2 separate regions of the Homo sapiens genome follow, and region 2 is linked to region 1. Evidence: fine-mapped expression QTL. A gene starts in region 1. The other region holds a variant in brackets. All regions are shown on one strand. Distances are from middle to middle.

The links. PIP is the estimated chance that this variant, and not a neighbour inherited with it, causes the effect. A credible set is the group of variants that fine-mapping cannot tell apart.
Region 2: its variant is the best candidate, but not a certain one, in a credible set for the expression of PSMD6 in whole blood (INTERVAL, PIP 0.68).

The regions. Positions count from the first base shown.
Region 1 is chr3:64,020,525-64,025,908 of GRCh38, reverse strand. It overlaps PSMD6 (proteasome 26S subunit, non-ATPase 6), which reads left to right and starts at 2,415. Exons shown (of 8, transcript NM_014814.3): 1 at 2,415-2,634; 2 at 3,386-3,591. The coding sequence starts at 2,490. LOC105377121 (a long non-coding RNA gene) reads right to left here and starts at 1,834. Exons shown (of 3, transcript XR_940906.3): 1 at 1,758-1,834; 2 at 1,167-1,284. RefSeq lists a silencer at 2,207-2,306 and enhancers at 1,869-2,490, 2,457-2,806, 2,491-3,113.
Region 2 is chr3:63,947,094-63,952,477 of GRCh38, reverse strand. It overlaps ATXN7 (ataxin 7), which reads right to left. Exons shown (of 13, transcript NM_001377405.1): 5 at 1-99. Among named protein-coding and RNA genes, the nearest start is that of PSMD6-AS2, 54 kb to the left of the region's middle. The variant T/C (reference allele first, on the strand shown) is at 2,386.

The DNA of each region.
Region 1 (5,384 bases):
TGTGAGCCACCTCTCCTGGCCCTGCTATTCTATCTTTTATTATAGGTGCCTCAGCTATGAACCTCGCAATGGGTGAAGAAAGGATACTACTTTTTCTCCCCTGCAGGTTCTCTGTTCAATATTAGTGGCAATGTAAATTGATATATATATCATTTGTGGAAAATAATTCATAAAATACTTACAGAATACATCAAAATATAAAATATTAATGCCCTCTTATTCAGCAATTGCACGTCTAGAGATTTAGATTGAGAAATAACTATTTAAGTGTGAAAATATATATGTACACGGATAAGTGACACTGTAATATTAATAAGATTGAAAAAAACAAAAATAACCCAAATCAACCAGCACTTAAGGACTGATGAAGAAAAAGTTGGTATAGAAATATAATGGGCCGGGTGTGGTGGCTCACACCTGTAATCCCAGCATTTTGGGAGGCTGAGGTGGGCGGATCTCCTGAGGTCAGGAATTCGAGACCAGCCTGGCCAATATGGTGAAACCCCGTCTCTACTAAAAATACAAAAATTAGCCAGGCTTGGTGGCACGTGCCTGTAATCCTAGCTACTCAGGAGGCCAAGGCAGGAGAATCGCTTGAACCCGGGAGATGGAGGTTGCAGTGAGCCAAGATCACCCCACTGTACTCCAGCCTGAGATCCGTCTCAAACAGAGTGAGATCCGTCTCAAAAATAACAAACAAACAGAAATAAATATAATGGAATCCTATATGGTCAATCCATTGTCATCCAAGATATCCACAATACATGGTAGAATGAATAAAACACAGTTTAAAATGTGCGAGTATAGAATGATCATGTTAATATACCCAGATGAGTTTTAAAGAAGCTATGCTTCTCTGGAATGTAAGTTCCAAAGACAGGGCTTTGTGCTCTTCACTGCTGAGTCCTTGAGGCCTAAGACAGTGCCTGGTACTTTGTAACCATGCAATCATGTTTGTTGAATGACTAAATGAAAGAATTTTAGAAAGTTTTTTACCAAAAGTTTAGCAGTGGTGGAGAGCTATTTAATAGTATTTTTTTTTTACTCTTCATATTTTCTCTATCATTTGAGTTGTCTTCAAAATGCTTGTTTCATTTTTATAGAAACAAATAATAGATTTAAATTATGTGATGATGCCTACTGCCTGTGAGATGTGGCAGTCTCACCTGTTTCAGCAGCTGTGTAAACTGGTTCAGCTCTTTTGGAAAACCATTTAACATTAAATATCCCCAAGTCACAAAATCCTTCTTCCCTTTGTCCGTTATTCCTTCATGGGATTTTATGCTAAGGAAAAAGATGCAAAACATGAAGTGATCTAGACATCCAAAGTCTTCATCCAAGTTTTTATATTAGGTAAGTAAAAACTCTGGTCAACCTAAAGACACCTCTAACAGAGGGAAGAGTGAAAGTAAATTATGGTAAATCCATTAGATGGAATTTAGGCCAGGCATGGTGGCCCACACCTGTAATCCCAGCACTTTGGACGACTGAGGCGGGGGAATCACTTGAGGTCAGAAGGTCAAGACCAGCCTGGCCAACATGGTGAAACCCCGTCTCTACTAAAAATACAAAAATTAGCCCGGCATGGTGGTGCAGGCCTGTAATCCCAGCTACTTGGGAGGCTGAGGCAGGAGAATCGATTGAAGCTGGGAGGCAGAGGTTGCAGTGAGCCAAGATTGTGCCACTGCACTCCAGCCTGGGTGACAGGGCAAGACTCCGTTTCAAAAAAAAAAGGAATTTAATGTAAAGATTACCACCTCTGAAGATCTGTAGCAATGTGAACAAAAGGAAGCTGAAAATGCAGGCATGTAATGATTTAATTTATGTGTAAACAAAACGATGATGCTGTTGTACTATGACGTAGAATCCTGGGTGCAGTTTTTTTTTCTTCTTAAAACCGCAGAAAGAATGTGGATTTTAGAGTTCTAGATAGGGGTTTTCATTTAGGCCTTGCGACATGGCTGTTACATGACCTTGGTTGGTCTGTTTCCCTAACCTCTTTGTGCCTCATTTGTCTTACCTACTAAATAGGCTAATAGTACTACCTCGCAGCATGAAGATGATTTTAATAAGATGAATGAGAGTAACGACTCGACAAACTATGGTGATTGTTTTTATTAATGCTGTTATTACATTTTCAGTTTTCAAAAAATTTTAAGCTCCCATCAGTTACAAACGGAAAGTAAAATAGCTAAAAAGGGAGTGAGAAAGAGATTCAAGAAATTGGGCTTTTGAGTTGGGCTGCACCCACTCTGGGACTCCGCAGGGGGCCTTGAGGGTGGAAAAGCCCCCGTGACCACACAGGGGCGCAGGCGCCCAGGCCGGGTGAGGCGTTCCCGGAGGTGTCCAGCAGAGGACGCTGCCGGCGGAGACGGGACCGGAAGCCGGGCCGCAGGCGGCCGGGCGTATTCGCCGACTCCTCCCGCTTCCGCTGCCGCAGCCGGTCGTAACCAAGTTGTGTCCTGTCAGCCGCTGTCCCCTTCGCCGCGATGCCGCTGGAGAACCTGGAGGAGGAGGGTCTGCCCAAGAACCCCGACTTGCGTATCGCGCAGCTGCGCTTCCTGCTCAGCCTGCCCGAGCACCGCGGAGACGCTGCCGTGCGCGACGAGCTGATGGCGGCCGTCCGCGATAACAGTGAGGCCCGCACGAGCGCCGAGTCAGCGGCCTAGGCCTGGGCCGTCCCCGCGTTCCGGAGCCTGCGGGGACTTTTTTTGATGGAGCTCCAGACCCCTCTGACGGGGTCTCAGAGACCAGGCCTGGCTTCTCCGGCCCTTAGGGTTTTGCTTTGGTTTGGGGATACCCTGGGGGACCTCGACTTGCCTCAGCGGGGTCTGCATCTCTCTGTGCCGCCTTCCCCTGTAAGGGCAGCTTGGGGGAGAATCGTGAGGCATTAATATTTACCCCTGTGCTAGGCACAGAGTAAAGGCCCCGTGACTTTCTGTCAGTGGGGACTGCTCCCGGGCGCGGGGTATTCCTGTGGGAGAGTTCAGCTTGCCTGTGGAAGGGAAATTTGGGTTCGGTTCTTTCTGGCCCTTCTGTAGTGAATGTGTATGTTTGAACATATGTATGTGAGTATGTGTGTATAAAAAGTCTTTCCCTGTTTGAAGACTTTTGGAACAGAATCCGGCAAGAGCAAACCGAGGATTGCCCTCCCTCCAGCCCTAGTAGAGGTTGGCATTGCCAGGATTGGCCGTCACGCAAACCTCCCACCAGCATACGTTTATGTTTTGCCAAGCCGATTATTAAGCGCCATCGCATGCCTTCCTGTTAGTGGGGAAGAGACTGGTGGATGACTTGTGGCGGGGCGGGGGGTGAAATACGTGGGCAGACTTTGACTTGAGGGCACAAGTGTCCCCACTCACACATCCCTCTTTTTGCATGTTAGACATGGCTCCTTACTATGAAGCCTTGTGCAAATCCCTCGACTGGCAGATAGACGTGGACCTACTCAATAAAATGAAGAAGGCAAATGAAGATGAGTTGAAGCGTTTGGATGAGGAGCTGGAAGATGCAGAGAAGAATCTAGGAGAGAGCGAAATTCGCGATGCAATGATGGCAAAGGCCGAGTACCTCTGCCGGATAGGTGACAAAGTGAGTAGAGATGGTTTTCCCTCTCTGTAGTTAGTATAGGCTAAAATTGGAGACTATTCCAGGTAATCGTTTCTCATTAAAAAAATTAACTTCGTTTTAGAAAAAGTATAAAGGTAATCATGCTTGCTTGTACTGGTGAATCAATGTAAAGATGAAAAAGTCGTCTCCATGAAATGCCTTGTCATTTCCCCAAACAGCAGCTAGGGCTGTATTCTTCCCCATTTCACCCCATGCCGATAAAAACGTAAGTGTACATCTAGAGAATTTTATTTACTGCTTTTACAAAATTGGGATCATTTTCAGCAGTTTTCTCACTTGGTTGGGAAGCACTGGTTCTGGTGTCTTTAGTACTTTACACGAGTAATACTTAGCAGAAACTAAGAAACAGTATAGTAAATGCTGAAGTTCTGTTATCTTTCTTTACTCTGTACCTGCCCAGGGATAGGCTTTTCAGTTCTTTTATTGTGCATTTATGCAAACTTTTTGGTAATTTTTTTTTTTTTTTTGAGACGGAGTTTCACTCTTGCCACCCAGGCTGGAGTACAATGGAGTGATCTTGGCTCACTGCAACCTCCACCTGCTGGGTTCAATCGATTCTCCTCCCTCAGCCTCCCGAGTAGTTGAGATTACAGGCGTGCGCCACCACACCCAGCTAATTTTTTTGTATTATTAGTAGAGACTGGATTTCAACATGTTGGCCAGGCTAGTCTCGAACTCCTGACCTCAGGTGATCCACCTGTCTCGGCCTCCGAAAGTGCTGGGATTATAGGCGTGAGCCAGTGCACCCGGTCATAAAATCTTTTTTACGTAAAATTTTATATGTAAAAGAATATAAATGCTCAATGAAAGAACCAATTTTTAAAAAAGTTAATACTTGCAGAAATTTTTAATTCTACAGAATTTTTTTTTTAAGTACATAGGATCATAGTGTATTAGTGTAGTCCTGTTTGCCCTTTTCATTCAGCATTATATTTAAGAGGTCTTTTCCATGCCAACATACATAAATCTGGCTCATCCTGGTTAACTGCTGCCTAATGTTCCACTGTAGAGCTAGCTCTGGCATAGTTTATTTGCCTGTTCAGCTGTTGTTGGACATATGTGTTGTTTTCATCTGTTTTTGCTTTAGCAAACTGCTGCTGTAAAAATATGCTTATGTATGTCTCTGTGTGTATATGCTAGTGTTTCTCTAGGGTATAGTATATGAAACAAAATCGCCGGGACAATGAACAGTTTTTTTTTTTCTTCTTTTTTTTAAATATGTGTGGCCAGTTGTTCTGCATAGCAGCCAGCTTACTCCACCATCAGGGCACCAGAGGGGTACTCACCATTACTGGATCTTTGAAATTTAATTGAGTAACTGTGTAATAGTGGTTAAGAAAATGGGCTTTGAATGTTTTTAATTTTAAATTATTTGCCTGGAAGTATTTAGGTATAGAATGACATGGTGCCAATATAAAAAATAAAAATAACATGAGCTCTTGAATCAGATTGTCTGGGTTCTGTTTTCAACCTCGGTAATTATGATTTATGAAACCCTCGGTTTCCTCATGTGTAAAACAGGAGTACTGATAGTTTTTACTTAATGTGGATTAAGGATAGGAAAAAGCTTAGACTGGTACCTAGCACATAGTAAGTGCCTAAATGTTGTTTTGCAATGTATATCTAAAACGAGGTTTTTTTCTCTTTTCTGGTTGTAAACTTAAGACGTGGTCATTGTAAAAATTTGGAAAATACAGAAAAGTTTAGAATTATCTAGTGGTTTCCATTTACTTTTAAGCTGTATGTTTGTGGCT
Region 2 (5,384 bases), 73 kb after region 1:
GTGATTGAAATGCCTGCGGTTTGACAACCTGATTACAGTCGTTACACACCACCAAGTAGAAATCATCATGGGCTGGACAGAAACCAAATATTGGCATGTCTGCAACACAGAAACAGAGCATCACTCACTCATCTGGTTCTGACTGATATAAAACCATTTTGGGAAACTACTTTCTAAAGGAGTTGCCTTATTGTAAAGTATACCAGGACAAATGAACTGATGTGGTACACCACCACTATTAAACAGAGAAATCAAATCAGGCTTACAGACACACTTTAAAAAGGGTTAAAGTGCACCAAAAATAATTATGATGTGGTGAAACAATCTTTTAAAATGCAAACAATGAATATATTTGCACAATAAAGCAACATTAGATGAACTCTACCAAGAGTTAAGGGAAAGAATCTGCAACCATGTAAACTGCTTAGTTCACAAAGCTGTACCATCTAATGCTTTTGTTTAACTGTGCATTCTATTCCAGCTCTCTGGTTCCTGAGTTCTATGGAACAATTAAGAAAGGGAGCAGAGACAGAGGAATAGAACTGCTGGTTTGCCAGCATGTCATATAAAGAAAATTATTTTAATATATTTTTTCCAAGTCATAGCAACCTCTAGTCCTTTTGCTTACATACTAATGCCACCAGAAAGGCAGAATGAACTTTAGTACAAACAGCATTTCATATATTAATCAGTTTGGTTACCAAAATAGGGTAGGATACGAGCTGTTTGTTTGTTTTAACAGTAAGACAGCAACTTAATTAAATGCAAAAGTAAAACTAAACTGTCTGCATATACATGAAAACTGAAAGTAACTTGATACCTGGTAAATATGGTTAACTAAAACATCTCAACCATTCAATTAATTATGAACAACAATTTGGGGAACAGAGCTAAAAGTTCAGATCCAGAATCTAACTTTTTAAGTATTTCAAAATCAGTGGATTTTAAACAGCATTTTACACTACATTCACTCTTTAGAATATCTGCAATGAATGGATAATTAGCACACTTCAATTTAAGCAAAAGTTTTAGTAGATCAAATACCAAGTTTAAAGGACAAGGGGGAAGATCCAAAAAGCTGATTAGCATCTACTTTCTTTCCTATGAAGATTTAATTTCACACTTTCTCCAGCCGGGGAGATCCTGGTGGTTTTAAAGGGAGAAGAAAATTCCTTAAGGAGATGTCAAGTGAGGATAATCTCTAAAATATCAAATTACTGATCTAGTATCTACACATGGCTATGGCTTGAATTTTCTTAAACAGTTTCTATTACACTGAATTGCACAGATAGCTAGCTATAATCCGAAATATACTAGAGTCTAGCACGATTTGGGGATGTACTTGCAGCACCGAGTAGTTTCTACAAGCTATTATTTCATTTTTATCCTCACAACTACCTAGGTAGACATCATTATATCCCCCCTCTAAAGAAGAGAAAACTGACTCACAGAGAGGTAAAGTACTTTGTCTAAGGTCAATAGCTGGAATTCAATTCTGACTTATAATGTGGCTTGGATTTCTTACCTCTTGAAGACCAGAGGAATAATGATATCTAGAGAGTCCTTCCAGATTCCAATGTCAATAAATTGGAATGTCAGGGCTGACCATCTTTGATGGTATAAACTGATTAGATAAGAAGCTTCCAGTAGACTACAGACTTCTGTGACTACGCTTATTTAATAAAAAATAAGAGCCAAACAATATGCTATTTTCCCTGAAAGCCTGCCCACATTGAGTTAAATATAGTACATGTGGGAGAAGGGGAAAGGTTATATCTATGCAATGATATACATGTAATAAGTCACTTTCCAAGATTACAGTTTCTTGACATGACATTTCATTCTGAAAAATAAAATTTAAAGTCATTTACCGTAAGTTCCATATGCTTCTGTGCTAAATGCCTCTGATACATCTAAATTACAGAACTGGTATAACATTCATAATTTACAACTGAAGAGTGTGAGATAGATATCAAATGAACAATTTCATTAATGAAATCAACTCAATTAGTTTTATTATTAGATAGCAGTTAAAACAGTATTAAATAAACAGTGTTAGTTTAGTTTTAGGTCTCTGCAATGTGCTGCTGGTGGTCTCTGTGATTTCCCTCAGTTCTGAATGTAAAGCACTGTTGCTTAAAATAGATCACTTTGCCAGATACCAGATTCTTCTGTGGACTAACCCTCTACCCCTTTAAAAATAAAGCAATTAAGAGAAATAAAAACCTAAACTGATCCTTTCAAATAATAAGGATTCAATTTGTCACATGATGTTTATCATGTACAAAATTATTCTTTTTTGCCCTGGTTCCTTTGATCCTTTTCTGAGACTTAGGACTAGTAAAACTAAAAAGATAGGGGTTATCCTGTAAGGAACCAAGAATC[T/C]ATACTTCTGTAAAAATTTCTATTTCCTCAATAACTTAAGATCAATTGCAACTGATGATGACTATAATGATAACCAGCTGACATTTACTGAGAGACTACTATGTGCCAGGTCCTATGCCAAGCAGTTCTTACATGGTTTTTCCCATTTATTTCTAATAATAACCCTACATAATAATCCCCATTTTACTTATGGAGAAACAAACTTATTTAATATCACTCAGCAAGAAAGCGGCATAACCAGGACTCTGGTTTGTGTGACCGGAAAACTCGGTTCTTAATTTCTCATGAGCACACTGAATCTCTCTAAAAAGCATGCACACACACACCCCCTCTGTGGGAAGAAACATGGTATACTTAAACCCAGTTCATTCTACCCTATGAAACTGAGCTCCCTGGGCCAGGCGCGGTGGCTCATGCCTGTAATTCCAGCACTTTGGGAGGCCGAGGAAGGCGGATTACCCGAGGTCAGGAGTTCGAGACCAGCATGGCCAACATAGTAAACCCTGTCTCTACTAAAAATACAAAAATTAGCTGGGTGTGGTGGCAGGTGCCTGTAACCACAGCTACTCAGGAGGCTGAGGCAGGAGAATCACTTGAACCTGGGAGGTGGAGGTTGCCATGAGCCAAGATTGCGCCACTGCACTCCAGCCTGGGTGAAAGAGTGAGACTCTGTCTCACAAAAAGAAAAAGAAATTGAGTTCATTTTATGAAAACGTAAAGCAACTTTAATTTTAGCTTTCTAAATTCTTCACTTTCAGATATCCATATTTGGAAGTAAACTAGAGGATACAAAATAATTTAAATAAAATGCTTCTTCAGGAAAAAAAAAAAAAAAAGGAATTCTATATTCTTTTTCTGCTCTGGGACATTCCAGGGGCCTTAGCAACAGGAACAGAGTGTGGAATGTTGTGGCAACAGAAAGAAATGAAATAATGTGTGTGTGAGAGACAGTATGTATGTTCCTAAATATTTTAAAGCATAAATTCACAATCAACCCGTCTGCAAATTAAAATAGGGATCTTGCTCAAATGCTGTGAAAAGCTTGATTTACAACAGAAAATAAAAATATAAAATTAATAAAAATGAATTCATTATTCAATTAAAAAGTTTACAAAATATACTTGTAATATACAACTTAGGCCATTAATTATGTACTTGAGCATAAAGTTTAAAAATTGTACTTGAATTAATGGATTCTAAACGAATTTGAAAGAATGGATTTTATTGTTGTGTAAGCCCTAAATCTTTCTCAGGATTTAGGTCACCCCTATGTTCCAATTAGTGAGTGGGCCAGCACCCACATCTAGGCCATCATGTACTTTGGAGACCCCAGGCCAGCATACTAGGGAGGATTAGGTTTAAGCACAAGGACACTTGAGCACATGTATATGGAAACTTCAGTCACATGCAGAATGAAGTCCCTCTGCTAGAAACCATACCCCAAACTGTGGTGAATGTATTTACTTTGGTGTTGCTATCTCCATTTTGAGGACTTTGTTCAGTAACAAGAAAACCTGAATGGCACTGCAAAGCATTTAACCTGCCCAGTACCCTGCGTGTCTCCCTTTTCCCACGCATCCCAAACTTCTACATGCCACTCACAAGTTTCTATCTCCAGCCCCGACTGCTCCCAAGCTCTGTCTAGTTTCACGTACCAGACTGCCTACTAGACATTACCATCTAGATGTCTTATATACATTTCAAACAGAACAAGCATGTCCAAAACTTCACTCTTGACCCTTCTCTGCTCCTCACCCAACAACCTTCCCCATTTTGGGTAAATGATACTATTCATCCCCCAACAGCTCAAACTAAAAGCCCAGGTGTCACCTCCAACTCTCTTGTCCCTCAACACATTCAGGCCACTAGCACACCCAGTTAAGTTCTATCCTAAAATCTTCATCCACTTCTCTCCACTGCCATGGCCACCACTATTGGGCCTGCCACCAGCACCCTTTCAATGAACTCTGGAAGAAGTCCCCTAAGTAGTCTACAAACCTTTCCACAAGGCTGCCAGAGTGATTCTTTAAAATTCCCCACCAGATCACATCACTCCCCTGTTTAAAATTCTCCAGTGGCTTTCTACTCCTCTTGGAATAGAACTCCAGCCCTTACCCTGGCTCCCAAGGTCCTGCCAGATATACCTGCACTTCCCTCTCATCCTCTGTTCCCTCGTTCCCCACTTCTCTCTCCTTGGCTCACTCTGCTCCAGGCACACTGACCTCCCTTCTCTCCTCAAACCCAGAAACCTTTTCCCCAGCCAGACTCTATGCTTGCACTTCACAAGATGCCTGGTGTATTCTCACACATCAGGTCTCAGCTCAGCTGTCACCACTTCAAAGGGCTGTTCCTTCCCCCTCCCCAGTTAGTTACTATCACTGGCATTTTAAGCAGAGTGGCTAAGAGTGTGGGTCAGTATCACTCTGAATCCTGGTTCCCTCAATCAAAAGAAACGTGACCTTGGGCAAGTTATACAATCTCTTCAAATTATCACTTTTTTTTCCAGACACAAGGTTTCTGTCGCCCAGGCTGGAGTGCAGTGGCACAATCACAGCTCACTGCAGCCTCAATCTCCCAGGCTCAAACGATCCTTCCACCTCAGCCTCCTGAGTAGCTAGGAGTAATCACAGGTGTGCACCACCACGCCCAGCTAATTTTGTTTTATTTTTTGTAGAGACAGGGGTCTCACTATGTTGCCCAGAATGGTCTCAAACTCCTGGGTCAAGTGATCCTCCCACCTTGGCCTCCCAAAGTGCTGAGATTACAAGTGTGAGCTACTGCGCCTGGCCAGCATTTTCTTCACATATTGAACCGTGATGACCATAGTACCTACTTCACTGGGTACTTCAAAGGACAGAAAGACTAAGAGAGCTACTACATGCCAGTCTTAGAAATGCACCTGGCCCTAGGAAGTGCTCACTCAATGTTTGCCCACAGTCTATGAGATAAAAGTCATGATTGTTATTTGTCAGGAAACTAAGGCACACAGGATTGAAATC